2 separate regions of the Homo sapiens genome follow, and region 2 is linked to region 1. The links come from fine-mapping of genetic effects on gene expression. Tissue or cell type: visceral fat. Region 1 holds a variant in brackets; the other region holds the start of a gene. All regions are shown on one strand. Distances are from middle to middle.

What was found. PIP is the estimated chance that this variant, and not a neighbour inherited with it, causes the effect.
Region 2: it holds the start of UBE2QL1, and the variant in region 1 is fine-mapped to the expression of UBE2QL1 in visceral fat (GTEx, PIP 0.94).

What each region holds. Positions count from the first base shown.
Region 1 is chr5:6,521,222-6,523,851 of GRCh38, forward strand. No RefSeq gene overlaps it. Among named protein-coding and RNA genes, the nearest start is that of LINC01018, 60 kb to the right of the region's middle. The variant A/C (reference allele first, on the strand shown) is at 1,241.
Region 2 is chr5:6,447,629-6,450,258 of GRCh38, forward strand. It overlaps UBE2QL1 (ubiquitin conjugating enzyme E2 QL1), which reads left to right and starts at 1,231. Exons shown (of 2, transcript NM_001145161.3): 1 at 1,231-1,619. The coding sequence starts at 1,266. LOC105374639 (a long non-coding RNA gene) reads left to right here and starts at 1,709. Exons shown (of 2, transcript XR_007058679.1): 1 at 1,709-2,630. RefSeq lists a silencer at 1,194-1,263.

The sequences.
Region 1 (2,630 bases):
TCTCATGAGGTTTGCAGACAATCTGTGTTTAGAGGGAGGCAAACACCACATATTGCAGAATGAAGGTTCAGAGACCAAATTTGCCAGGTGCAAATGTTGGGCCAAAACAAGCAAGGTGAAGTTTAAACAACATAAACATAAACTCCTGCATCCTGATTACACAAATAGAAGTTAAGCGGCCTTTTCTATAATTCAGGGAAGATGCAGCTCTGGGATCAGAGAGTGACAAGCTGCTGCCAAAGCTAACACAGACACCTGTCGTGTAGGTCAGGGTGGCGCAGCCGCAGGTACTGTTGCTGGCATTTGCTACTGGGACCACATGAAGTGAACTGATTTTAATTCCTGGTCCATGTTTCTCTGCTGTAATATCCAGGGAGTTATTCTGAAAACCCGCTGCTCCAGTGCACCTAGAAAGGCTGGAAACCCTCTTCTCCAAAGCCTGGAAAGGCTCCAAAGCATCTAGAAAGGCCTATTGTTTAAATGTGTGATTAGGCTCACAAAAAGATAAGGAAAAACCTCAAAAGAAGAAGAAGACTAGATCCCAAATCCAGAGAAGCATGGTGGCGCTGAGGCCCGAGGCTGACCCTGGGCTTGAGGTGGTTCCTGTACCCTGGCGTTGTCCATCTGTAGGGATCTGTGGGGACAGGAGACAAGTTCGTGGTGAGATGCCTCCCCTACAGCCCACACACCCCAAGGACTCACCTCCAGATACAGGGGAGTGAGGGAAACGGTTCAGATGGATGTAGGTGTGAGACATGCTGGGAACAGCAGGGACGTCTGTAAGGAGGGAAAGCAGAGTCCGCAGGGCAGAAACAGAGAGGCTGAGCCAGGCTCAGAGGACTCCCAGCAGAGGCAGTCACGCAGGCCAGCAGGGGTGGCTCTGGAACCCCCGAGCAAGTTGTGGCAGCAAAGAATTCGGGATCTGAGGGGTTTCAGTTGTAGGTCTGAGGTCTGTACTGACAAGGGGCAGGATGCCAGCTCAGCAGTAGTGGGGAGGTGAAGACCTCACAGGGGATAGGGGATAGGGATGGGACAAAAGAGGGAGGTCTCTCAGATACAAGACCCATTTACAGAGTCTCGGCTCATCCAAAGAATATGAGGGGAGGGGGCTTTGTGCTCACAGATGATTGGGTTAGGGGAAAGATGATTAATCACAGGCTGTGGACGCATTTTCGAGGCAGGAGCCAAGCCTTATGGCAAGATAACGAAGGGGACGGCAAGGGCTGCTCTGTGGGGGTGC[A/C]CGGGCTGGGCCCGCAGCACACCACCTGTTCACTAGGTCTGGGCAGCAATTAGACCTGCACCCAGCAGGGCCCACAAGGTCAGAACAGGGACTGTGAAGATCAAACGGAAGCGCAGGAGGGTGTTCGAGCCTTCGGGCAGGGCTTGTGCTTCCCCCAAAATCAGTGCAGGTTTGCCGGTGGCTTTCAACCAGAAAGCACTAAGGAACGCTGTGTTCGTCTGCTGGGCTGCATGACAGAGTACCTCGGGCCGGGCAGCGCACCCAACAGACAGTTATTTTTCCAGAGATGGAGGCTGGAGGTCCCAGAACAAGGTGGCAGCAGGGGCGTGTCTGGTGAGGGCTCTTTCTGGCTTGCAGACAGCCTCCTTCTCCCTGTGTCCTCACATGGCAGAGAGGGAGACAGAGAGAGAGAGCTCTGATGTCTCTTCCATCTACAAGGACCCCAGCCCTACTGCACCTGGGACCCACCCTATTACCTCCCTATGAAGGCCAACTCTCTGCCTACAGTCACACTGGGGGTTGGGGCCTTAGTACATGAATTTGGGAGGATGCATGCAGTCCACACAGGCTGAGGCAGGGATGGGAGGTCGGGGTGAACTTGGGAGTGTTTGAAACTGAAGGAAATAAAGTATGGCCAGGGAACCGCCTTCCAGCATTCCAGCGGGTCCCTCTCAGGGCAGCACTTCCTGGCCCTCAGGCTGTGGGTGGCCCCAAGTTAGACGTTTGGCTCAGCCTGCTCTAGACAGCGCTGGTGGCTGCACCCACAAACCTGTGGGCAGGACTCTGACCCTCACGCTGGCCCGGGTGGGGGCGCCTCCCGTGCCCTTGGCTCAGCTGCTGCCCCATGGAAGCTGCTCCTGACACCCTTGCTACATGACCCTGTGGATTTGCCCTCGTCCCCTTCGCAGAAGGGGAACCAGAGAAAGCATTTCCACCAGGCTTTTGAAGTGAGATTCGGGTGGGGGGGTTTGAGTTTTCTTTTGCTTTTATTAGTGTCTGGTGCTTTTTTTACCCTCTTTTCTCCATTTCAAATTGTATTTTTATTCTAATAAAATATGTATAACATAAAATGTGCTATGGTAACCATTGCGAAGTATACAGCTCAGGGGGACCAAGCACAGTCACGCTGTTGCGTGGCCATCAGCTCCATCCAGCTCCAGAACATGTTTCATCTTCCCAGACTTCCCATTCCACTTCCTGTCTCTAAGATCGTGACTCCTCTGGGGACCTCACAGGAGTGGAATCACAGCCTTTGCCCTTTTGTGACTGGCTTATTTCACTTAGCACAATGTCTTCGAAGTTCACCCCCTGTACCATGTGTCTGTATTTTCTTCTTTTTTAAGAATGGATAATATTCTCATGTGAGGATGGACCACATCTTGTTTATCCA
Region 2 (2,630 bases), 74 kb before region 1:
ACACACGCACACACTACACACATTCCCACACACTCATACACCACACACACCCTCACACACACACCACAAACACACCACACACACACCACATCAGTCACACACCACACACACACAAACACCACACACACGCACACACTACACACACACCACACACTCATACACCACGCTCACACACCCCCACACACACCACACATATCATGCATTCACACACCACACACAAGCACACACATGCACACACACTACACACACACCACACACTCATACACCACACACACGACACATACCACACACACCACACATTCACACACTACACACTCATACACTATGCTCACATACACCATGCAAACACCACACACACCACACACCACACTCAGACACCACACATTCACACAAAGCACACACACCACGCTCACACACAACACACCACACACACCACACACTACACACAATTACACACACTACTCACACACACCACACACACACCACACACACACACCACACACATCACCCTCACACCACACACAAAACACCCTCACACACTCACACATCACTCTCACACACACCATACACACATTACATACACAGCACACACACACCACACCCTCACACCACATCCCAGTCACACACCACACACTCACACACTAACACCACATACACGCACACACATATCACACACTCATACACCACGCTCACACACCCCACACACACACCACACATATCACACATTCACACATCACACAAGCACACACATGCACACACACCACACACTCATACACCATACTCACACCCCACACACACCACACACACATCACACATTCACACACGACACACTCATACACTATGCTCACACACACCATGCAAACACCACACACTACACACACTACACTCACACACACACCACACCACACTCACACCATACATACATACACACCACACACCACACTCACACATCACATGCACACACACCACGCTCGCACACACACACCACACAGTGGCAGCAGCAGCAGCACCCCGGGGGCGCGGGCGACGCCAGCCCGGGACCCGGCAAGGGAAAGGGCAAGCGCGCGGCGGAGCTGGCCCCGCGCGACAAGGCGCCGGCGGCTGCGGCGGCGGCGGCGGCGGCTGCGGCGGGGGCCGGGGGCCCCCGCGAGAGGGCAGCGGGCGCCAGGGCGGGGCCGGGCCCGGCGGTGGCGGCGGCGGCGGGCGGCAGCCTGGTCCCCGCGGCGCGCCAGCAACACTGCACGCAGGTGCGCAGCCGGCGGCTCATGAAGGAGCTGCAGGACATCGCGCGCCTTAGCGACCGCTTCATCTCCGTGGAGCTGGTGGACGAGAGCCTGTTCGACTGGAACGTGAAGCTGCACCAGGTGGACAAGGACTCGGTGCTGTGGCAGGACATGAAGGAGACCAACACCGAGTTCATCCTGCTCAACCTCACCTTCCCCGACAACTTCCCCTTCTCGCCGCCCTTCATGCGGGTGCTCAGCCCGCGCCTGGAGAACGGCTACGTGCTGGACGGCGGCGCCATCTGCATGGAGCTGCTCACGCCGCGCGGCTGGTCCAGCGCCTACACCGTGGAGGCCGTCATGCGCCAGTTCGCAGCCAGCCTGGTCAAGGGCCAGGTAAGGCGAGCGCGCCGGGGCTGGGGGCGCGGGGCCGAGATCGGGTCTGCAGCGCCGCCGGGCGCCCGGGCCCCGTGGTGAGGGCCAGCGCCGGCCCCTCCGGCCATCTCGCTCCCTGCTCTGACTACACCAGCGCCCCACGGGGATGCTCCGAGCGCCTCCACCTCTTTTCCCTGAGCGTTTTCTTCCTGCCCCTGCTTTCCGTCCCGTCTCTCCCGTCCCCGTCTGGTCTCAGTCTCTGCCCGTCTCTCTGGTATCGGTCTCTGCCGTCTCTCTGGTCTCTCTAGCTTGCTCATTCTCTCCTCATCCCTTCATAGTTCTCTTCCATCCCTCTTCCTTAGCCTCCCTCTCCCATACCCTCCTCTCCCTTTCCTCCTGGACTCTTTCTCCTCTCACCCCTTTCTCTGTCCCCCCATCTATTCCCACCCCCGTTCCTTTTTCATTTTTTCCTTCTCCACCCTCCCTGGCTCCCCTACTCTTCTTTCCCCTCCGTCTCACCTTTTCTCGCCCCTCTCTTGTCTGCTCCTCAATCTCCTGTCCCTATAATCTCTATGAAGGTGAGAACTTTTTCTGGACCTCAGGATTTAAGTGTCCAACCTAGCTGATCTCCCACCTCCCCAACCCCCCCCACACACACACACACAAGGCTCCTCCGCAGGGGACTCGGGTGGGAGATCTGCAGGTGGGTGCCGTGGGGAGGGACAGCTGCCTGCTTGTAAATCCGCCCCCTGCCTTCTTCTGGGCTGCCTCTCCTGGAAAGGTGGAAATTTTGCTCTTGGGAACTCACTCTAGAGAGGCGGCGGTGTGGTTTGGGCATTCCCTTAAGAGACAAGACCAGACCCCCCCCCCCCACGGCAATGCCTGTTTTCCCCTCAGAGCACCCCCTTCCTTCCCCGAACCCCTTAGGACCACCACCTCTGGGGTAGACGTTCCAGGTCTTGGTCTCTTTCAGACCTGCTTCTTTTTCTTCATCCCCTTACCTCACTGCCCCAAGCAGTTAAATCCTTTATC